Regions from separate parts of the Homo sapiens genome. Here all the other regions are linked to region 1. The links come from fine-mapping of genetic effects on gene expression. A gene starts in region 1. Each other region holds a variant in brackets. All regions are shown on one strand. Distances are between the middles of the regions. Region 1 holds the start of CAPN14 (calpain 14). Region 2 has its middle 80 kb from the start of EHD3. Region 3 overlaps EHD3 (EH domain containing 3).

Evidence for each region. PIP is the estimated chance that this variant, and not a neighbour inherited with it, causes the effect.
Region 2: its variant is fine-mapped to the expression of CAPN14 in esophagus mucosa (GTEx, PIP above 0.99).
Region 3: its variant is fine-mapped to the expression of CAPN14 in tibial nerve (GTEx, PIP 0.90).

Annotation. Positions count from the first base shown.
Region 1 is chr2:31,212,513-31,220,691 of GRCh38, forward strand. It overlaps CAPN14 (calpain 14), which reads right to left and starts at 5,003. Exons shown (of 22, transcript NM_001145122.2): 1 at 4,944-5,003. RefSeq lists enhancers at 1,626-2,126, 2,127-2,627.
Region 2 is chr2:31,309,969-31,318,147 of GRCh38, forward strand. No RefSeq gene overlaps it. Among named protein-coding and RNA genes, the nearest start is that of EHD3, 80 kb to the left of the region's middle. The variant T/C (reference allele first, on the strand shown) is at 4,984.
Region 3 is chr2:31,248,218-31,256,396 of GRCh38, forward strand. EHD3 (EH domain containing 3) reads left to right here. Exons shown (of 6, transcript NM_014600.3): 3 at 1,154-1,251. It overlaps LOC124905983 (a long non-coding RNA gene), which reads right to left. Exons shown (of 4, transcript XR_007086270.1): 3 at 1,131-1,489. Among named protein-coding and RNA genes, the nearest start is that of EHD3, 18 kb to the left of the region's middle. RefSeq lists enhancers at 4,509-4,588, 4,629-4,678, 4,959-5,038, 7,990-8,179. The variant C/T (reference allele first, on the strand shown) is at 4,877.

The DNA of each region.
Region 1 (8,179 bases):
TCTTTGGTGGTGGCTACTTTTTCAACCATCTCTGAAGCAGTTGAGAATTCTGGGCTCCATTTTAAAGTGGGAAAAACTGAGATCCTAAGAAATAGAAAGGAATTTCCCAGGAATTTCACCAGAGTGCAAAAATAGGAACTAATTCCCAGGGGTCCATTCAGTGTCTTGAGTCCCTGCCCTGATGTTCAGTTCATTCACACATTTACTGAACACCTACTATGTGCTAGACACTATGTCTCAGACTGGGAATGTAACACCTGGCCTTTGATCAACCTACAGGGTAGAGTCAGGTCTCTGGAACGGAAGCAAAAGAAATAAGTACCATGCACTCACTCACATGAACCTGTAGAATCCTCCTGGGGGATGATGGATTTCCAGAGAACTCTGGCATCTTGCCACAACCCACTAAGTTGTCTCAGGCAAAATTGTAGTAGAAACCTAGGCTCTTTGTACAAGACTCTGTCTACATGATAAAAAGCACCAGATTGAAAAATGATCAATTCCCTGCTCTCGACAGTCGGAACAAAAGAACAAGACTAACTATAGGCTTTGCCTGATTTATCTTGAGCAGGGATTGTACTTCTTTTGTGTAATAGGTGGTGTGCAGTGGCCATGGAGTGCTGGGTTTGGGATTGGAAAACCCAGAAGGCAAGTGAGTTTGCCACCTCTTCCCCATGTGCCCGTGTGCTGACTCCTTTATCCTCTCTGAGCTGGCTTCCTCACCCTCAATATGGGATGACATGTACTGTGCCTACTCTCAGAACTCAAAAGAGATAATCGTGTGAAAAGACTTGACAAAAGTCTAAAGTAGGAGTTGGCAAACTACAGCCTGGATAAATAAAGTTTTACTGAAACTACAGCCACACTTATCTGTCTGGTATTGTCCGTGGCTGCTTTCGCATTACAACAGCGGAGTTGAGTCATTGCCACGGAGTTCTTAGGGGCCACAAGCCTAAAATATTTACTATGCTGTCCTTCATAGGCAAAGTTTGCTGAGCACTGCTCTAAAGCACTGTTTAACCAGGTAGATTGCTGTTGCAGGGCTAGGCACAGGGGTAAGCTCCAAGTAGGAACTCACAGATTAAAATGTGGTTGGTTGAATCCATCATTAAGAATTTATCTTAATGAAACAATTTTATCTCTAATTGATTCGTTGACTTTTTAATAGACCCTTAACATTTACAGTTACAATCATGTCTCAAAACACTTGCAAATGTGGCCTGCAGTTTCTCTCTGCTAAAGTTTCACATCTAATCCCTTATTTAGATGTGATAACATCAGACATTCCTGGGCAGTTTTCAGGTGGTTCTGTGGTTACTGATTACGAACAGGAAAACAGCATCTCTATGTACATATCATGACCTGTTCATAAAAGATGAAATGATTTTGTAATGTTAATGGTTTGAAAGGCTTTAAATTGTTTTTCTTTTACTGTTTAGACATCTGTCTGCATTTAGATCAAGTTTCTAACAGAAAACCCCAAGCATGATTCTTCATTTATTAGAGCAGACATTTGCCTTTCAGTAAACAATGATGAATGTGGCCCAACTATGAGTTCTTGAAGGCGAGAATGGTATAGGCTTTTTAAAATCTGTATTCCCAGATGTGATCATTCATGATATAGTCACATAATACCATGAATAAACAGATGCTTGATAAATGCTGGCCAATTGACTCACTGACAGAAGGGATGGATGTTTCTTCACTTGGAAAATGTAAAGAACAATAAAGCGTGCCCTCCCCTCCCCTCTTATGAAGCTGAACTGAGATAAAGGAAGTTAAAAACTTCCTGTGAACTGTCAATCACTTGGCTGCTCCTCTGGTGTCTGATCACATTGCTGGGGCCTGATTTAGGTTGAGGGAGCCTCTTTAACATCCTTCCCCTCCAAAATGCTCATCCAGGCTTGCCTTAGGGCTCCTTTCCTGGGTGGTATGTGGGATCCACGTCAAAGCAACCTGGGGAAGTAAAACCAAGGTCAGACCTAAAAGAAAAAACAAGTCTCCAAAGGGAACATGCACCTTGGGAGAAGGTGGGGGAGAAGCGGCAGGAAGTCCCTTAACTGGCAATGCTGGGGTAGGCGTCCCCTGGGCTGACTGCATGCCTCTATGGAGGTCTAAGAACTTGGCTGTTGGAGCTCCCTACTCACCCCCAGCTGCCCCACTTCCATTTGACTTTATGAGACACTGCATAGTCACAAATCTTTGCAGAGAATAAGACTCCCTGGAGCATGGGTGTACACCTTGAGTTGCCACGACCTGGACACAGCTTTCCCTGAGCAAAGGAACATCCGCTCGGCCTTTGTGGAAGTTGCACCCTGGCGTCGCTCATTGCAGCTGAACCAAATATGAGGCTAGAAGGAACTTAGTGGTCATCCAATTCAGTGCCCCCATGTACTGACAGGACCTCTGAGCAGTTCCAGGGAGTCATGGCCTGCTTGGCCTGACTGTTGGGGGAGCCCTGGGGCATCATCTCTTCTCTCCGGCACAGGCACACCCTCTTTGTACAGCCTCCTCCTAAACTATGACTTCAGTGGAGTCACTCTGTTCCCCTCCAGCTGCCCTGCTCTGACACTTTCAACCCCAAGAGGTAGCGGCACCCTAGTCTGAGAGTCATCCCCTACTCTTCTTTTTCTATCCATTCCCACGCTTTTAAAGAGCCAATCCTTCTGATTTTTTAAAACAAAATATCAAATGATTCTGAACATTTGACAACACATTTGGACAGGAAAGACTTTTAAAGCAGATGTAAATTCATTCCTTTTTTTTTTTGCAGGGGCATTTGCATCTTCAGAGAGTCATGGAATTTGAGCTAGATGAGCGGTCAGACTGAGGTAGCTCATCTCCTCCTCTGATCCTGCATTTGCCATAGGACTGGCCATTTCACGTCACGCCCTCAAAACCACACAGCTCATGGCCTCAAGTCCAAATGGCCAGGCTCTTGGTGTGTTAGTTCCTTTCTGTGTACACAAACCCCCACCACACACCCTCTGCTCTGTCCAAACTTACAAAGGAGATGTCGCTTCCTCCTGACCCCCTCTACCTCAAATCTCCCTCATCCTTCAAAGCTCAGGGCAAATGTCCCTCCTCTCCAGAGCCTTCCCTGGAAACCTCTTGTCTTCTCCTTGTGGGGCTTTCCTGCCCTTCACTCACACTCATGAACTGGGGAGAGAATGCTGGTTAACAGCCCCCTCCTCTCCCAAGCCCACTCCTGGGCTGGAAGACTTGGCCGGTCATTTTAGGCTCTGATTAACGCTACTCCAGAAGATCAAAGTATGCAGTTAAAAACCCAGGCAAACTTTTGGAAAAAGTAAGTCAATTAGAAACATCTTAAAAAAGAAAAAAAAAAAAAAAAGAAACTATTTGACAGTAAATACTATAGCTAAACACATACAAACTATATGATACAATTCCATTCCTGGTTATTACCCAACAGAAATGCTTAAATCTATGCACCAAAAGACATGTACAAGAATACTCACAACAGAAATATGCAAAATATCCCCAAATGAAAACTACCCAAATGTCCATGAACATGGATAAATATTAATAATAGTGATAACCATTTATACAATGAAATACTTCACAGCTCTGAACAAACAAGAATTACATGCTGCAATATGATGAGATTCACAAACAATATTAAGTAGAAAAAATCCAGACACAAAAACTCTTTGATTCCATTTACATAACTTTCAAAAGTGACAAAACCAATCTATATGTTAGAAATTAGCTTAGTGGTTACCCTTGAGGTCGAGCGATCTATCACCAAACCAATTATACCACTGATAGTTACATCAATTCCATTCCTTTTCTACTGCTTGTTTTGATGGTCAGGAGAGAGATTTACAAGGGAGTTTGAAAAGTGGGAGAATCAATTCATTTAAACAAGGCTTTATTGCATGCTTCCCCATGGGCCAGGCATTGCCCTAGATGGTAGGGGTACAGGATGGATTAGACAGAATTTCTGCCCTCGAGGAAGTCACAGTCCAACGACCAGGCTCACACTCTAGAAAGGGCCCTCACTCTTCAGCATGAGGTGCCCACTCTGTGAAATGGCCAGTACCTAACTCATCCAAGAATTCTCCCCCTAGAAAGTCAAAGACACCCCTCACCCTATCAGGCCTGGAAGATGTACCCAGGCTGAAACACTTAGGTACCACCCACCAAAACATTGTCACCCTGTGCCTCCATAGGAGAGGGTTATAAGCTGAACTGAGAGCCGACTACCTCGCTCTGGAGTCCTCCAGAGCTTTGAGGAGTGATTTCCAGTGCCCATAGGCCAGCAGACCACTCAGACAAGGGCAATTTCGAGATTTCTAATCTAGGCAAGGGCCGTGCCAAGCACCACACTGACAGCTATCATTTGAGGCAATATTTCACTCTTATAGTGTGGTCACCGTCCCAGTGTGTTTTTCACATCTAATTTCATACAGGAAGTCAGCCCAGCCTCACTGCTTATCAGAACAGAGAACAGTCGGCCTCCTTGACTCTGAGGATCCCATAAGGCCTCAGTGATAAGCTGGCTGCCCCCAGATTCCTTCTCATCAGGAGGCTCAGGAGACAACTGGGATGGCCTATGTTCTGGGAAATGACAGCACCTAGCAGCATCAGTAACTCTACCAAATGACTTCGAGAGAAACCAGAGCTGGAGGGACCTCAGAAATTACCCAGGCCCAAAGATACTCCCATCTTTTTTTTTAAATGAGGAGATTGGGGCCAAAGGGCTGAAGTCTATTCCTCAAGGTCACACTAATAAGTGATGGCAAAACTGAGGACAAAATTGAAATCTCCAGACTCCAGGGTTTTTTCTGTATACACTCACCTGCAAAGCTCAAACCAGGAGAAGCAAATACCATCCTCTCACCTTCTAAACCCAGACCCTGTAGAGTCTCATAGGGCCTCTGGGCTAACTTGGACCCACCCTTGGAACTAAAGAAATTTACCTGCACAGGAGATTTTGCTTCTTTAAGCGCCTGGGCAAGCTCTAATCCCGGTGCAGTCAGAAGCATGCAGCCTGAAACCACCTCTTATATATGGGTCCTTTCTACACATGGTGTTTAGCCAAGAATTTGCGACCCCACCTCCCAGGACCTTGGTTCCTCCCCACTGTGTGTTCTCTGGAAGGGAGTGGAGTACCCAGGGCTTTGCGACTGGATTACACAAATCCAATTATTTCTTTAGAACACCATACAGAGAAAGCCTGTTTCAGTAATGCCTTAATGAGAGAGAGTTAGTCATCTTCTCACTTCCAACCCTGGGGAGGGTACTTTCAGGTGTGACCTAGAAAAGCATTTCACTGCAGGAGCACATGATACTGCTTGCTCACCTCCCCACAACTCCCAGGACACCAAAGAACCAAGACAGAGATTCCTGTACATCCCTATGTTTAAACTAACATTGACAGAAGCCTGGAAAGTATTTTCAAGAGGTGGCTGTGGGTTTTCTTTTATGGTTGTCAGAGTCTGAGGCAGCCCTCAGGGATGTTTCCTGCTAAGGAGGAAATCTGTGATTCATTTGTGCTATTGAGATCGCTCCCTCTTCCTTCCCAACCTACTTTCCAAATCCCCCATTTTGGCCATCTGGGACTCAGAACATTGACCTCCCACTGGTTGTCTCCTCACAGTTCACCTTGGGTCCCGTTGCTCCAAATCTGGTTGTTCTTCCCTTAAAGCATTTCTTAGCCCTCCTGTGGTTGCTCTAGACTTCTTCACTCCCTCCCCACCCCCACCCCCAAATCCTTCTCCTAGGTTCCCACCACCACTTGCACAGATTTCCATCATAGCAGCTTAGTTGGTTCCAGCTTGCCTGCCTCCACGCTTGCACACCTAGGATCCCCAGAACCCAGAACCATGCCTAGTACCCAGGAGGTGCTCAATATGTGTCAGTGGAATCAGAGTCCCTTGCCTGTGGAAATCCTCTGTCCTCTTCCTCCCCGCCTGCTTCTTGGCCTCTGCCTTGACTCTAATCTCTCCAACTCAATCATTTTGTGTGATTATCACTCCACCCATTTTATTAGTACTGATAAATTAACTAATATTGATAATAATAGCCAACACGTTTTGAGCACTTATGACATGCCAAGCACAATGCTAAGCACATTGCATGCAGAATCTCATGGAATCTTCACAACTTTGTGAGGTAGTGCTATTATTATCCACATTCTACAAAAAGAAAACGGAGGCACAGCATGGCAACTCGCCCAAGATAACCGCAGCCAGTAAACAGCAGAGATGGGGCTAAAGTCCCAGGGTGTCAGGTTCCACTAACTTCTCCTCATCTTTGTCAAGGAATTGTCTCCCTGCCACTGTCAAATCAAATCCAAAGCTTTCTTCCTGAGCTAAACGCTCTTTGGAGCCTTCCCCCTGCCTCATGTGCCAAATAGCCACCCTTCCTCGCATGGGTCTGAAGGTGTTATGAGGATAGCAGAAGCAGTGGATCTGGGAAGACCATTATTATTATTATCTATCTCCCAGACATAACCTTTTCATTTTCATCTCCTCATCCTGGCCCTTAGTTATCTTCCCCCTTCTATTCATCATCTTTTCAGGGACTCCAGGTGGGGGGCTTCCGCTCATCCCTTGGGACAGCACCCTGCACCTGGCACAGGGTTAGGCTCACTCTATGTCTAAGTTGTTGTTATGGTCACCACTGGGCTTACCATAAATTGTGCTGCGGATTCACAGAGCCACCGAGACGCATAGGGTAAGGCCCAAGGGCCATTTCCTCCCGTGACAACTCTTGAAAGTTATTGTCCTGGGTGACAGGAAACAGATGGCCGGGGAGCCTTGCACAGCAGCACTGTGGCCTTTTAACATCTCAGAGGTCATACATCCCTTCCCCAGGCTTCCGACTGTCACCCAGGACAGACTAGTATGCCTGAGAAAAAGGCAGTGAAGGCAAGTGCATCTGGTGATGAGCCTTCTGTCTCTGCAAGGCACAGGCAATCCTGACCCACAGTGGGCTGTGGACCAGAAGTGGGTTGGCAAGTTTGTGATTTATGACCAGAAATTTACTTTCCCGTGGAAACAAGATTTTAGGAGTGGTGAAGCCTTTCCCAGAAAGGCTTTGATGGGCTTCACAAGCTCAGGAGCAGTAGAACCGGAGCACTTGCTAGAGTTCTAAGTCCTGGAGGCAAAGAAGAGGGAAATGCATTCCTCGGCTGGTGGCACAGTGGAGTATTGGAGAATGAGGGTTGGCTTGAAAGTCAGAAACACAGATGTAGGTTCACTAACTTTGTGAAGCTGGGCAAGCCATTTCCTCTTTCTGGGACTCAATCATGTGAAACACAGTTGTGCTCGTCATCTCTCTACTTTCTGTTACAACATATTATGATTCTGTTTGGGACCAGCCTTGAGCAAACATTCAAAGGAGGTCAAATGCGTCTGTGGCACCTTCTAATGTCCTACTTCCCACTTCTTCTAGAAGAGTCCAAGTGCCCTAAATAATCTGCCTCTCCCACAAACCTAATTGCTCTCTAAAGTTTCTCCTTCCTTTCCCTCTAATCAAAATTCTCATTCCTTCAGGGCACGGGAAAGCAATCAAATTGAATTCCTGATGTCTCACTACTGTGTGAATAGCTTCCAAGTCCTTAACCTCACCATAATATTTGCATTTTTTAAAATAGAGAACTCCTTTTCCAAATGAATCCCTGATTGTTGGAATTTGGGGCACTGAAATAAGAAGTAAAAAAATCCAGTTGAGGAATAAAATAGAGTACTGAGATAGTAAATAATGACTGCTCCAAGGTGACCCTTCATGGGCACACAGGTTATTTATGGGGTTTCATTAGACTCACGTTAAGGAACAAGTAAAACTGTTTTGTATCCAACACAACTGTAAATAAGAAAAACTACTGAAATGCCTATGGCTAAGCTCTAACCATTGATTCTCCCTTTGCCAACATAAGAGTAAAGCGAGAAAGTCATGGGGTAGCATTACCCTGGCCAGGGTTACTTCTGGCAGCCCCACAGACAGGGGATGTCAGGCTGTGGTGGCTGCAGCAGCACCAAAGCTTCATAAAACTAACTGACGGCCAGGCATGGTGGCTCACGCCTGTAATCCCAACACTTTGGGAGGCCGAGGCAGGCGGATCACGAGGTCAGGAGACCAACATGACCAACAGCCTGACCAACATGGTGAAACCCCAACTCTACTAAAACTGCACAAATTAGCTGGGTGT
Region 2 (8,179 bases), 97 kb after region 1:
GCTTCTAAGATTCTTTCCCTTTGTCTTGACTTTAGGTAACGTGATGACCATGTCCCTAGGTGATAATCTTGTTGTAATGAATTTCCCAGGTGTTATATGAGCTTCTTGTATTTGGATGTCTAGGTCTCTAGCAAGGCCAAATAAATTTTTCTCAATTATTTCCCCAAATATGTTTTCCAAACTTTTAGATTTCTCTTCTTCCTCAGGAATCTCAGTTATTCCTAGGTTTGGTTGCTTAACATAATCCCAAACTTCTTAGAGGGTTTGTTCATTTTTTCTTATTCTTTTTTCTTTGTCTGTGTTGGATTGGGTTAATTTGAAAACATTGTCTTCAAGCTCTGAAGTTCTTTCTTCTTGTTTGATTCCATTGCTGAGGCTTTTCAGGACATTTTGCATTTCACTAAGTGCGTCCTTTATTTCCTGAAGTTGTGATTGTTTTTTATTTATGCTAGTTATTTCACTGAAGATTTCTCCCCTTATTTCTTGTATCATTTTTTTTTATTTCCTTAAATTGGACTTCAGCTTTCTCTGGTGCATTTTTGATTAGCTTAAGACTGAACTTCTAAATTCTCTTTCAGGTAAATCAGGGATTTTTTCTTGGTTTGGATCTATTGCTGGTGAGCTAGTGTGATTTTGGCAGGGGTTGGGGGGTGGCTGTTAAAGAACCTTGTTTTGTCATATTACCAGAATTGTTTTTCTGGTTCCTTCTCATTTGGTATGCTATGTCAGAGGGAAGATTTAGGGCTCAAGGCTGCTGTTCAGATTATTTTGTCCCACAGGGTGTTCCCTTGATGTAGTACTCTCCCCCTTTTCCTAGGGATGTGGCTTTCTGGGAGCCGAGCTGTAGCGATTGTTATCTCTCTTCTGGATCTATCCACCCAGCAAGTCTACCAGGCTTCAGGCTGGTACTACAGGTTGTCTGCACTGAGTCCTGTGATGTGAACTGTCTTTCGGTCTCTCAGCTGTGGGTACCAACACCTGCTCCAGTGGAGGTGGCAGGGGGTGAATTGGACTCTGAGAGGGTCCGTAGTTTGGGTTGTTTAATGCACTGTTTTTGTGCTGGTTGGCCTCCTGCCAGGGGGTGGTGCTTTCAAGAGAGCATCAGCTGTGGTAGTATAGGGAGGATCAGGCGGTGGGTTGGGGGTCCTATAACACCCAAGAGTATATGCCTTTTGTCTTCAGCTACCAGGGTGGATAGGGAAGGACCATCAGGTGGGGGTGGGGCTCGACGTGTCTGAGCCTTGGGTGGGTCTTGCTGCAGCTGCTGTGGGGGTTGGGGCTGTGGTTCCCAGGTCATTGGAGTTATGTTCCTAGGAGGATTATGGCTGCCTCTGCTATGTCATGCAGGTGGTCAAGGAAGTGGGAGAAATCCAGAAGTCACACTCTTCAACCAGCTTCCACATGACCCAAAAAGTGGGTCTCACTCCCACTGTGTCCCACCCAGCCCCATCAACAGCAACAGTCTGTTTCCAGCCAGCAGGTGAACAGGGCTGAGAACTTGCCCCAGGCTACAAGCCTCCCAGCTGCAAAAGCAAGTAGGGCTTTTGTGCTTCCCCACCTGTGGATTCTGCACAACAGATTCATGCCCTCCCCTGAGTTCTGGCCAGGAAACTTTGCGTTTGGTTGGAATTTTTACAAAGTTCAGCTGGAGATTTCCTTCTCCCTGTGGTCTTTTCTTAGTTCCTCCCCTCCCCAAGGACCCCTGTCAGACAAGTCTGAAATAGCTTCCCAGGAGACTCAGAGCCCACAGGGTTTTTGCCACTGCTTCCTCTACCACTGTATTTTGCTCAGCTTTCTAAATTGACTTAGCTCCAGGTAAGGTCAGAATCTTCTCCCATAATTTAGACCCTCAGGTTCCCCAGTGAGGGTATGTGTTTGGGGGCAGACGATCCCCCTTTCCCACCTCCACAGCTTAGGCACTCACAGTATTTGGGCTGTCTCCCGGGTTTTGCAGGGGCAATCCACTTCCTTCAGAGGGTCTGTGGGTTCTCTTGGCTTTCCTGGTTTATTCCTGCAGTATTCTGGAGTGGTTAGTTAACACTGAGGTTTAAAACCCTACACTCTTGCCAAAACTCAAGGAAAACATGGGCAGCTCCCTCCATCTCCTCCCTTCCTAGGAGAGAATAAGGAAAGGCATGTGGCCTAGAAGCAAGGGGAAGAAAGAGGGCCAGAAGGAGAGAGGAGACCAGCATGTGCCCAGGATTAAAATCAGGCAAGTTCTCCACTTACGAGGGAAAGAAGGACATTGTCAAACTGCCTTTAGAGAAAGGACAGAGACAGAAGGGAGTTTTGTTCTTGTTGTTGTTGTTGTTGTTGTTGTGTTTGTTTGTTTGTTTTTTGAGATGGAGTCTCGCTCTCTCTCCAGGCTGGAGTGTAGTGGCACTATCTCAGCTCACTGCAACCTCCACCTCCCAGGTTCAAGCGATTCTCCTGCCTCAGCCTCCTGAGTAGCTGGGACTACAGGCACGTGCCACCATGCCCAGTTCATTTTTGTATTTTTAGTAGAGATGGGGTTTCACCATGTTGGCCAGGATGGTCTCGATCTCTTGACCGTGTGATCTGCCTGCCTCGGCCTCCCAAAGTGCTGGGATTACAGGCGTGAGCCACCATGCCCAGCCGAGAGAAGGGAGTTTTAAATGTTCTTCAGTGTTTCCAAAGGGCCTTCTCCATGACCATTGCTGCTGTAAGCTTTCCCCTATAACCAGGAGGTCTGGCTACCCATGGCCCCACATCCGAAGGCTCAGTGGGTAGAAGAGCTGAGCCTTCTCTGGTGAGAAGTGAGGTGCTGGGCTTGGATATCGGTTTTTCAGCACACTAACCCAGTTACCACCCTCTTTCCTTCTCTCTCCACTAGTCACACACCCCTGTTTTCTAGGTGTGAACCACTGACAAAGCATTTTTCATGCACCTTGCTTTGGTGGTGATGTGGCCCACATCTACATAGGCTCCAACTACTGCCAGCAGCTGGTGGAATGACTTAAGGTCTAGCAGAAGTCATATGGATAGGTCATATTGATAGAGTCATATCGCTATCCCTGGCGATTACTGCAGGTGCAGTAATCAGCTCAGACAGCACTGTGTGTCTGCTTAATCAGATGAGTGTCTGGATGATGTGTGTTATTTGAGAAGAGCACAGAGATTTGAGTAGTTCAGCCCAGATTCAAGCTCTGACTCAGCTACTTACCCACCCAGTACATGACGTGAGTGAATTAGTTAACTTCTCTGAGCCTATTTCCTTATCTGGAAAATAGAATTAATGCTGACATCATAGGATCACTGTGAACTAAAGTGGTTAATTAAAAACAAAAGTATTTGTGAGGTATGAAAGCCTGCAGTGATATGGGACACCATAAAGGTGGAGAACGTAGTATCTGAAGTTGAAGAGCCCGGCACTTGGGTTCCAGCTACACTGGTCACTAGTGCGGGGACCTTGAACAGATGCTGATGCTTTTATTTTTAATATAGACTTTTTGTTTTTCAGGCAGGGTCTCCTTCTATCACCTACGCTGGAGTGCAGTGGCATAAACATGACTCACTGCAGCCTTGACCTCCTGGGCTCAAGTAGTCCTCCTACCTCAGCCTCCTGAGTAGCTGGGAACACAGGCACATGCCACTATGCCCAGCTAATCTTTCAGTTTTGTAGAGACAGGGTCTTGCTATGTTGCCCAGGCCAGTCTCAAACTCCTGGGCTCAAGCAATCCTCCCGCCTCAGCCTCCCAAAGTGCTGGGGTTACAGGCATGAGCCACTGTGCCCGGCTAGACTTTAATTTTTAGAGCAGTATTAGGTTCCCAAAAAAATTGAGTTGGAAGTACAGAGATTTCCCATATATCACCCCCAACCCCAGCTTCCTCCACTGTCAACATCCCATGCTGAAGCGGTACATTAGTTACAATTGATGAACCTACACAGACCCATCATTATCACCCAAAGTTCATACTTTGCATTAGTGTTCACTCTTGGTGTACATTCTAAGGGTCTGGACGAATGTATAATGACATGCATCCACCATTACAACATCATGCTGAGTAGTTCCACTGCCCTAAAAATCCTCTGTTCTTCACCTGTTCATCCTTTGTTGCCCCCAGACCCCTGATAACCACTGATGCTTCTACTGTCTCCATAGTTTTGCCTTTTTCATAATGCCATGTAGTTGGAATTACACAATATGTAGCCTTTTCAGATTGGCTGTTTCACTTAGTGACATGCATTTAAGCTTCCTCCATGCCTTTTCATGGTTTGATAGCTCATTTTCTTTTAGTAATGAATAATACTCCATTCTCTGGATGTACCAGTTTATTTATCCATTCGCCTACTGAAGGAAATCTTGGTTGCTTCCAAGTTTTGGCAATTACAAATAAAACTGCTGTAAACATCCATGTGCAGGTTTTTTTGTGGATCTAAGTCTTCAACTCAATTGGGCAAATACCCAGGAGAATGATTGCTATATCATATTCACTTTTCTGAGCCTCATTTTCTTCACTGGTAAAGTGGAGATAACAATAGTCCCATAGGGTGATTGTGAAGTTTAATTGAGATAATGCACATGAAGCCCTTAGCAATGCACCCAGCACATAGGCAATACTCAACTAATGGTAGCCCATCCTTGTTATCCTATTCAAGAGTAATGACAATACAAATGTGAGAGATGGAAATTCAAGTATTGACCGAGGGATATGACACATGGAGGTGGCATAGTCATGCGTCATCTGTCCATACTCCAAGAGGGCACAGGGCAACAAGAAATACTAGAAGACAGTCAGGGCACCACTGCTGCCATTGAGGTGGGATCTGGTCATCTCCTAGGGCCTGTGACCCTGAGTCCTGCAGTCCTGAGCTGCCAGGGTAGGGGAGGTGGAGATCAACCCATGGTCCCACAGTGAAGTGTGTCCCAGCTTTAGCAAACCAAGGTATCCTCCCACTGTGCATTCCTCTCCTCCCCAAGCCTGCTCCTCCAGCAGCTCCCCACTCCCCTCCTTTTGACT[T/C]ATCTGAGCCAAGCCCTGTCCCTAACTAGAAACTCAGAGGTGATGAAAACAAAGTTTTTTCCTCGCTTTACTTACTTCCTGTGAACTCGCTTAATTGTTCCCAGATTACTAGGTCACCAGGAGGATTTGGTACCTTGGATTTTTTTTTCTTCTTCTTCCTTATGCTTTCTGGAGACAACAAGGGTCACTTGGGGTCCTGCCTTGTGTGGCAAGGGTATGCTGATCGGATTTCTCTGGAATCCATTTCTGTGGTGTTTCTTGAGTGAGGGGATGGACTGAGTGGCCTGGGTGGTGTGTGGCTTTCAGAAAGCAATGCATTATTTTCTGCAGAAGTAACTAAAGACACGTTCTCTGAGCCTCCAGTGATAGGCCATGTTAGCTGGAAACAATAATGGTGGTTGTATTTCTGTTGTTTCTATCTCAGCCTTTCTTTTTCAGGCTGCCATAGAATTATTAAATGGTTTGAGTCAAAATCAGGCCTGAGCCTTTCAGAAGCCTTTCCTTAGACAAACACCGCTGGTAACGCTTTAGTTTAGCCTTCTGACAAGTGGGTCTCATTACTCCACCCATGTGCCCTTCCCCTCTGCTCCCATTCCCCTCTCTTGGATAAAAGCCTGGGGAGGAGTGAGAACTGCTTTGCCCTGTGCTCTTGGAGCAGGGCCTTTCTCTCAGGATACAAAGCCCTTGGGGAAGCAGGCAATTCTGCCCATGATGCTTCTGATGCTTTGGGTGGAAAAGGTTGCCACCCGAGAGCCTGGTTTAGGCACCACTCCAGCAACACCCAGGAATCAGCTGAGTGTCCCCCAGCATGTCACCTCCACGGTGAGGGTGTTGGACCTGATGACCTCTTCTAGATCCATTTTTAAACATTTCTCCAAGTGACTTTAGCACTACCCAGTAGAGGTTTCTACAATGACAGGAATGTTCACTAAAGGCTACCCTGTACAATAATGGCAGCCACTGGTCACGTGTTGCCTTTGAGCACTTGAAATGTGAATGGTACAGTGCAGAAAGACTTATTTCATTTAATTTTAATTAATTTAAATTTAAGGAGCCACAAGGGGCTAACGGCTACCATATTAGACAACACAGGCCTAGGCTACTGGATTCTGTATGTTTAAAACTGTGTGTTCCATCCATTCTATCTAGAAATTATACCACATCCACCCATGTCTCTTCATTTCCACAGTATCCACCTTAAGCTGAGCCACCAACATCTCTTTCTTAGGAAATGACAATATTTACTCCTTGGTTTCCTTTCTCTAACTTTAGCTCCCTCTGATCCGTTTGCTACAGTGAAAAGTGATCTTAAAACAAAAATTGACCAAGTTACTCTTCTCCTCAAAATCCTTCAACAACTTCCCCACTGCAGTAAAATTGAAAACCCCTCATGAGGCCTGCAAGTGCCTGCATGCTCTGAGCCCTGCTCCCTTGAGTGTCTGCACAGTCTGAGCCCTGTTCCTTCAAGTGTCTGCACACTCTGAGCCCTGTTCCCTTCAGGCCTCATGCTGTCTCAGTCTCCCCACTGTACCCACCACAAATTAGGCTTCTGGAAGCCATCAAACCCTTTTTCAGTTCAGGTCCTTTGCTTAAACTTCCCATTTGTTCTAGAGCTGTGCTGTCCAATACAGATGCCACTAGCCACATGTGGTTTTTAAGAAATATGTATTTTTTCATTAATTAAAATTAAACAAAACTTAAGATTTATTTCTCAGTCACACTAGACACGTTTTAAGTGCTTGCTAGTCACATGTGGCTGATGGTTACCATATTGGACAGCACAACAGTTCTTTTGGACAGCACAGTTCTGGGACATTTTTCCCCACACTTGAGCTTAGCTAATTCCTACCCATCCTTCAAGTCCAACATTCCATAGAGGCCTTTTCTGACCCTCCACTCTAAATTAAGGGTCCCCGCTTTATTTCTCACAGAACCTGCAATTTTCCTTTTCAGTTCTTCCAACTCTTTGCAAAATTATAGTTACGTGTCTGACTGTTTAATATTCATGTTTCCTATTAAGATCTAAGGCAGTGTCTCTTTTGTCCACCTGTCAATCCTCAGCCCCTGTCTCAGTGCCTGGCACTTAGCAGGAGCTCATTCATGTTGAGTGAATGAATGAAATAATGAATACGTATATAGATGGGTATAGTGGCTAAACATCATTTACTTGCCTAAAGAAACACAAAATCAAGAGTGAGAGCTTAGGAACCACATGGTCCTGAAATAAAACTCTGACTTCCATTCTTATTCTAACCTTTGGGAGCCACTGTCTCCTCATGTAAAAAACGAATGTTATTGCCATCTTAGACTGCTGTGCTGAGGAGTGAATGGGCTGACACAGGCAAAGCCCTCAACATATAATTATAATAGGTGTCATGTGTACATGCGTTTTTTTCTCTTTATCCCCTCTGCTATGTCCTTCTATCCTTCTCCATGGTCCCCTCCCTTCCACGCTGCATCTCTGGACCTGGCCTCTGCGTCTCTCATGCCTCAGGCCCATCCCTCTCTAAGAGATCTTTAGTTCCTGCCAACCTGTCGCAACTCAAGGATTAAACTAAACATTTCTCCAGCATAGAGCACCCCCTATGTTTGGGCATTCTTCACTGTCTTCCCTGTATGTGGCTGTATAAACCAGCCTGAACTACCTTCCCACCCAGAGCTCATAAAGGCAGACTCCAGCCTGCAAATGCTCTCAGAATAGCATTTGCTCAGAATAGCAGGTGCTCTTAACACCTGGCAGAGAGGGGCCCCATTCTCTTTGGGCATTTTCCATCAATTTGTATCTGCAGACCACATGCATCAGAATCACCTCCAGGGCTTGTTTAAAATTCAGATTCTTGGGTCTCACTCTAGATTTATTTAACCAGAATCTCTGCAAGGGGGGCCCTGAACCTGCATTTTCAATAACCAGCTCAGATGATTCAGAGCTCTTGTCAAGCCTTCTCAGGGTATAACATTTAACCCCGGGGAATACTGGGAGGATGGTTCCGATAAGCCACTCACTGATCCTCCTTTAATGTTTATACAATTTCATTTTTACATCAAAAGATCATTTACCAAACACCTACCTAGTGAGTTATTGAGTTTATTACTATTATTTGGAACTCATAAACTCACATGAGGAATTTTGTCAGGCTTAAAGGGGGTGCCAACCCACTCTTCTGCCCAGAGTTACCTGCAGCAGCAAGCCATCCTG
Region 3 (8,179 bases), 36 kb after region 1:
CGCTTCTCTTAAATAACACTTGACTGCTTTCCTAATAGAGATATTTGGCCTTTAAATGCCCAAATAAATGTTCCTGGGTGGTTCCCATTCTTCGAGGCCAGCTCCAGTGCCTCCTCCTCCAGGAAGCCCTCCCTCTGCCTCCAGGAAGCCATCTCTCTGCCTTGAATCTTCCAAACACTACATCTGACTTCTCTCAGGGTGCTGGTCCCATTGCACTGTGTATTCTGCTTGTCCATGTACAGGCCTCCTGGCCTCCTGTCCTGCACCAGGCTGTGCTCCTTGGAGACAGGGATCGAGGTTTGGATATCTTAGTGTCCCCAACAGCAGGAGTTGGCAAGCATGAACCATGGCTGCCTCACAATCATCCAGGGAGCTTCCTCAAGGCATAGAGCCTGAGTGAGACCCACTTCTGGGGCTGGGGCTGGGATTCTGGCCTGGCTCCTGGGAGTCTCCATTTTAAGCCAGCCAGGCTTGTGATCCTCTGGCCATAGCACCCAGCCTGTTATCTTGCACAGAGTAGGGCCTCAGTTACTGTTGAATGATACCCCATTTACAAATGAGGACATAAACAGAGAAGCACAGCCACTTGGCCCACAAGGATCAAATCAGAAGGAGGCTCCCCAGACCCTGACTCTGCAGTGATGGTTTGGGACAGACCCTTGAAGTCCCTCCTGCCCCGCTAGTCCCTAGGGGCTCATTTGAAGAGGAGCCAGGGGGTCTTCTCATTGGCTATCTAAAGAAGCTAAGGTTCCTAGAGAGGGCCAAGCTAAGTGGAGTAACTCAAGGCAAGGAGGTAGCTGACCAAGGACAAACTAAGGACTTGGGGCCATAAGAATTAAACCCAGGCTTTGATCACACATGAAGACCCAATGTCGCTATGGAGTAGCCCTGCTTGCTGGTCACACAGCATTTTACCAAACACACCCGGGTGCAGGGCGCTCTTAACACTGGATGTGGGGAGAGGCAAGAGGACTGGGGTTCAGCCCCGGGTCAGCTGTCAGCCACACCCTGAACTGGGCAAGTCCATGGTGAACTAAACCCTTCAGGATGCACCTGCAGCTCACCTGAGAGAGACAAGACAGGTGGTTGGAGTCATGCGGCTAGGTCATGAAAGGTGGGCGAGTACTCACCCAGGTTACCTCTGCCCATGCAGGTTCGTGTGTGCCCAGCTACCTAACCCTGTGCTGGAGAGCATCAGCGTCATCGACACACCAGGGATCCTCTCTGGGGAGAAGCAGAGGATCAGCCGGGGTAAGCAACCTGCCTGAGGGGTGTTGGCTGTGGGCTCCATGGTTCTGGCACGTTCAGTCTCTTACATACCAGAAGAGAAGCACCCAGGGCCATGCTGTCCCTTGGTGAGCCGGCACTTCTCCTGTGCTGTGTGGGATCATTTTACCTGGGGCAGTCCTAGGCCGGGGTTGGCAGGGGTCGGGAGAGGGGAATTCAGGTCCACCGTAGCTCAGGAGATAGCTGGCCTCAGTCTTCTCATCTGTAAAATGAAGACATCAATATCAGTCTTACCTCGTTGGGTTTATTCATGCTACAAGGGGCACCTTCCATGGCCCTGATCCTGGCTTGCTTCTTAAGTTCCTGGGGAGCTTGCAGCTCTGCAGGGCAGCCAAATGCATACAGAGAAATTCAGCTCAATGGTATCAGTGCCCTGGGTCATAAGAGGAGGGAACCAGGTAGTGAAAGCACTTCAAAAACTGTTCACTACAGATAAATACAGGATAATTGCTCATTAAAGGAGGTTGCCTGGTATGGTGGTTAGAAGACAGAACTCTGGAGTCAGGCTGGCAGGGTTCTAAGCCTGCCTCTGCCACTTCATAGCACAGTGACCCTCAGCAGGTTTCTTTATTTCAGTTACTTTGTCTGAAAAATGGTGTGGGGCGGTGGGGGCGGGTGGGGTGGGAATAGTATTATCCATCTTACAGAGTTGTTTGAAGATTAAAAGAAATGCTTAAGATAAAAAGCCTTTTCTGGTTGGCACATAGCAAGTACCTAGTAACCATGAGGGATTATAGATGATCATCATCATCATCGTTGTTTTCTTTTTTTTTTTTTTTTTGAGACAGAGTCTCAGTCTGTTGCCAGGCTGGAGTGCAGTGGCACGATCTCAGCTCACCGCAACCTCTGCCTCCCGGGTTCAAGCGATTCTCCTGCCTCAGCCTCCCAAGTAGCTGGGATTACAGGCGTGCACCACCACACCCAGCTAATTTTTTGTATTTTTAGTAGAGACGGAGTTTTACCATGTTGGCCAGAATGGTCTCGATCTCCTGACCTCGTAATCCACCTACCTTGGCCTCCCAAAGTGTTGGGGATTACAGGCGGGAACCACCGCACCCAGCCTGTTTTCTTTTTTCTAACTCTAAAATGCTAGGCAGATGCTATCAAAAGCTAAAAACAACTGCTCTGGGCCCCCACCCCCAGCCTGTCCTGGCACAGTTTGCTGAGTGTCCTGTATAGCCCACTACCCTCTCTGTGCCATGTGTTGTATCTCTGGCAAGAAAATCAGATGACGCCATGCCCACCCCAATATTGGAGCTAGTTGCCAGGGCTGGAGCCACATCAGCACTCAGAAGTCAGCCTATGGGTAAGGAAGGGCTTTGAACTGCTGGGGTTCTCTGGGAAGCAGCTAGAACTCTTGCCTGAATGGACCTAGGTAGGTGACTGTCTGCATGTGCCTTCACCCTCTGTGCTCTGTGGCTCTGGCTGGGACACAGATCTGCCCTGCCCATGTCTGTGCCACAATAGTGGGGCCCAGAAACCTTTGCTCTTTCTGCAAGAGCATGGCCTGCCCAGGCCAGCACTGCTCACCCCAGACCCCTCAGAGGAGAGGTCACAGCCTCATGGTGTGACAGGCCAGTGCTCCTGCAGTTGTGTATTGACGAGGCCCAAGTGGTGCAGGCCCTTGGCCCAGGTGCAGGCCACTAGTGCCAGACCTGGGCTTCTGTCCAGTGCTCCTGTGAGCTGCCTTGGTGTCCTCTCTGCAGAAAGCAGCTCTCTTCTGATGAGGGCAGGTGTGTGGTGCAGGGCCAGGCTCGGCTCTTTGAGGCTACACTATGCCTGTGTGTGAGCTGCCATGGCTGGGAGTGGAAAGGGAAGACAGTGAGAGAGGCCCTCCAGGTCAGCAGCCTGCTCAAGGGCCAGGTTAACCCGAGTCAGCCCTCCAGGGAAGACACAGCCTGGAGTCCTCATCCTGTAGCAGGTGGGAGGGAGTGGGGAGGCTGAACATCCTGAGAGGAAAGCCCTGCCCTTCCTCCTTACCACCTCTTGCTTTGCTTAGGAGGTGAGACCTGGGAAGAAGAGGGGAAATGAAGCAACTGAGTCAGGAGGGACTTGGGAAACTGTGTTAGCAGTTCCTGTAATTGGTGGCCTGTGAATTCTGGGACATCACAGTGTCACCTGGGAAGGGGGTCTTGGAAGACTTGATCTCCTGGCTCCCTATCTCTGGGCTGTATGGTGGAGGTGATAGGGAGCTGGAACCCCTGGCCTGGGAAAATAGGGATGTCTGAGCCTCCCTCCTTCCAGCCAGCACGCACGCTGTAAGCACCTGGCTCCCTGTTAAGGGCCCTGTGGAGGGACAGCACGGGTGGTTTTTCTGTCTTGCTTTGGTTTGTTTGCCGGAGCACCCCCTTTCTCCTAACCCACCTATTCCCAACCCCAAGTGGTTCATCTGGGGTTTACCCTGCGTTTAAGCCTGAAGGGGATTTGCTGTTTCACTCAGGCAGCTCAGGACTCCTCCAGGAAGGCTGGGGAAAGCCACCCCTTCCCAGTGTGAACTCCCTGGGGGACGTCACATGTGCACCTGCAAGGCCAGTGTAGCCTGACCAGCGGGTCCAGAGAGGACTCCAGCCTCTGCGGTTTCCAAGGACACTGTACTAGGAATTCAGAGTTCTGGGCTTTAGAACCTGTGTGTGTCTCAACAGGTCACATTTTCAGTGTCCCCATGTGTAACAAGGGGTAATGATATGTACCACACAGCCGTCTTGTGAGGTCTATAGACCATATGAAAACACGGGCCATAGCCCTGGGTCTGGATCACCATGAGCTACCTTCCTCCCTCCCTCCCTGTCAGTTGGCACCACCTATCATACAATCCCAGAGTAATCTGTGTGAATAGTTTCCCTTGTAGTTGTGCAGTGCACAGCCTGTGCACCTGTATGTGGCAGGCTGGTTCCCAGGGACTCCTGCCTTCCTCAGTTCCTATCCTATTCTATTCTTTTCCTATTTCTGTTTTTGTTGTTGTTGTTGTTGTTGCTGTTGTTGTTGTTTTGAGACGGAGTCTCGCTCTGTCACCAAGCTGGACTGCAATGGCGTAATCTCGGCTCACTGCAACCTCTGCCTCCTGAGTTCAAGCGATTCTCCTGCCTCAGCCTCCTGAGTAGCTGGGACGACAGGCATGCGCCACCACACCCAGCTAATTTTTGTATTTTTAGTAGAGACGGGGTTTCACTACCTCTCTCCTGCCTTTGTCTTTGGACCCCAGTGACTGCCTTAAGCAAATTAGGCCCTTGGTGTTCTTGCCTGCACTTCCTAATGCCTCCCATCCCACATTGACTAAGCACCAGGTCCCCCTACCTCTGGGAGAAATGATGGCCCCAGGAGTGGCTTTGCAGGCCAGTTTGTTTTCTGCTTTCCTGAGTCCAGACTGTAAATGCAGCTGCTGGCAAAAGCAGCCTGCGTTAAAAACAAGAGCTAGAACTGGGCTGCTGGCGCCTGGGGCGGTGCTGACCTCAGCACCCTGAGGAGACCAGGACAGTTGGGGGAAGGGCGTCAGACACCCTCAGTTATCTGTGGTACCCCAAACGAGTAAAGTTTCCAGGGTGCAGAGCCCAACCCCTTTCTTTCTCACAATTGGCCTTAGAACACATAG[C/T]TCCAGTTTAAACTGACGCACACCTCCCCCACCCTCCCCCACCCATACCTCCTTTTACGCACACACCCACTCCCACACCCACACATGCATACACACTCCTCACACATATCCTGCATATACACAACTCCCCTCTTCCCCACAGCAACCCCCTCCCACACACACACACACACACACACACACACACACAAATGTGTGCATAGAACAAAACTTGCTTTCTCATGGCTTCTTGCCTAGGGCTCCAAGAGCTCTGGGTTTGGCCACAGAGCAGACTGGGTGCTTCTCGCCTTACTCCAGCCAGCCCAGGCAAGGACCGGACACCCTTCCTCCCTGGGATAGTCCTGCCAACTATGTCCTACACGAGGGCATCTAGAACCTGAAACTCAGCCCACCTTCTGCTCACTGAGCCTCATACCTGGCGCAGGGCTGTGTCTCACCAGATAAAAAGGGGCATGGTTATCAAGTCGGCACAGAGGCCCCTACTGGCCATATTAGACTGCCTGTTCTGCAAAGTGAGCTGCTTCCCAGGGCTCCAAGACCTCAGGCTTCACAGGAAGGAGCACTCGGGCCCCAGGCTGGACTAGGGCGGCAAAGGGTCGTCCTTGCTCAGGGTGTGGACCCTCTACTGGGCCTGGGGCGGGGTGTGTCTTGTGGGAAGAAGGCTGGGGTGCCCGGGAAGCTGATTCTGGGAGGTCCTGGGCCAGCACTTGTCTCTGGATGCAGATGCATTGGGGTGGGCAGGGGAGGAAGACAGGGAGGTGGTTCCTGGAAGTGGCAGGATGTGCCCCAGCCTGGCTCATTACTGGGAAGAAGTGAGGATGCAGCAGGAGTGGGAGGGCTCCAGAAGGCTGAGTGTCCTGAGCTTAGGAACCACATTTCCTGGCTGCTTCCCAGCTAGAAATCCCCATAGGCGCCACCTTAGGAAAGCAGGGCGGGGCTTTGTGCTCACATCACAGACTGCACAGCTTGAAGCTCCTCCCCACAGGCCCCTTTCTGCACAGGTGAGCTCAGTAAGGCCAGAGCAGGTTGAAAATTTGCCCGGATCACACATCTAGGGAACTCGGGTCTTCCTATTCCTGGTCCACGGCTTCTCAGCACATTATCATCACCTGCCCCGGAAGAGCACAGGGGGTAGGAATGAGGGCAAACCTCTCATCTCCAGGTTTCCTCTAGGGGTCTTTAGGGCTCAGACCTTGGCAGGTCTGGGCTGATCCTTGCAGCCTCACATTCCTAGCCCATCCAGGGCACCCTCATTGGAGCAGAGCCTGCACTTAAAGGCCTCTGGGTCTTCCCAGACTACGTGCCGGTACAGGCACGCCTGTGTGGGCGCTCCTGTGCCTGGGCAGAGCAGCCGAGTCCTGACGCCCTTCAAAAGGCCTTGCCAACCATCTGCTCGGGCCGCTCTTTGCCGTTACTTCTGGGAAGCATCTAATGTGGCATTTCTTCCCCGTTGTCAGCCAAACTCTTCCCACATTTTGGAAATTGATGCCTTGTTATTCCTCTTTTGCTCAAATGCCTTTAAATCTTGACGGAGATTTTTTTGGGGAGGGATGGGGTTTTGTATGTACCCACCGCAAGTAAGTGCCTGGTTTGAGGGCTCAGCCTCTGAGCTTCAGGCTCACATGGCTGTGAGCTGTTATAGAAAGAGAATGTGGGCTGCAAGTCAAGGAGCTGGGTTCCAGGCCTGAGTTTGCCACCACCTGGCTGTGTGAGCTTGGGCAAGCCCCTTAATCTCTTTGTGTCCAGATTCCCTGTCCTGTAAGATGTGTATGCCCTACTTACCTCCTGGGATACAGAGAATTATGAAGAGCGAATGAGGTCACGTGGCTGGAAACCCGAAGAAGTATGCTGCCCTGTGAGGGCCCAGGCACTGCATGCCAGGCCATGATGGAAGCCGGCGGGTGAGGAAGGGGTGGCTTTCCTTACTGTGTTTGTCTGATTGATTTCCTCTTGCCTGGCATTACTTCAAAGTGCTTTCTTTCCAGTCATCTGGAGCCTCCGGTTGGAGGGGACCATAGATCCCTGCAGGCTGCCCAGTCTCCAGGCCCGGAGCTGGCTGACTAGACCTCTTAGAGCCAGCAGACTTGTGCTATGAAGTCCAGGAAGGGCAGCTTCTCTGCTCTGTCTCTTGGGGCTTGAATCTCCCCCGACTCACTAGTCCATATTTCATGAACACTTGGGCTGCCGCAGGTGCCCAAGAGCTACCGTTGTGGGTCTCAGAGCCATCGCTGGGACCAGAGAGGGGAAGGGGGCCTGTCACTGGCCATAGCACTCACCGCAGCTGCTGAGGCAGTCTGTGCTGTCAGATCTTGTTGCCACAGCTCTACCACAGAGTCCTCATTCAGCTCTACCACAGACCCCTCATTCAGTCATTTGTTATCCCTATTTTGCAGCTGAGAAAATTGAGGTTCAGATTTGCCAAATAAATGAGAAAGCTAATCCTATACCATACCCTTTTTCTTACTGGGTCCAGTCCATACCTTTGAGATACCGCCATTCCTAGATCTGCACCTAAGTCCAGGCCAAGTGAACAACTAAATATCCACCCTACAGATGACACAGCCTCGGGGTTAGCCAGGAGCAGGGAAGTCGAGCTTCAGAGCAACCCATGGAGTCATTGCTTGATGGTCATGGTCTTCACAGCCACACCTGGCTGGAAGCTTCTGGCATTACTGAGTCTGTAATTGGATAGCAGCTTTCCAGAGCAAATAGGAGGCCTCTGCTTATAAAATCACGGAAAGAGTTCCCAGAAGCCCTTGGCCTGTCCTCAGGCAGAGGCAGACTTCACACAGGCATCCCCGAGGCCTGTAAGACAGCAGCCTGCAGCCTCTCTCTCTTGCTGTGCCTGCAAAGGGTCCCTTGTAGCTAATCTCCATCCATCCTGTTGTACTCCCCACCCTCACACCTCTGGTCTCAGATGCAGAGAATTGTGAACCGAGAAAGGAAGCTCGGAGGTTGTCCAGCTCAATCCCCTGATTTGACAGGCAAAGAGACAGAGGACTAGAGAGGGGAGATTCTTGCCCAAGGACACACAGTAAGTTAGTGGCTAAGCGGAAACGAGAGGTGGACTCACCCAGGCCAGTGCTCCTCTGGTGACTCCTACAGAGCACATCCCATCTCATAGAAACTAGGGCTTAAAAGGAGTGCTTTACAAAAAACAGCAGGGCAATGAGAACAGCCAAGGTCACAGCTCAGCAGTTTCACCTGCATCCTCTGATTTGTTTAGATCCTCACAATAACCCTACGACTGAGTCACTGATTCCTCAACCATAAAACTGAGGCCCAGAGATTACTCATTTACTGTCT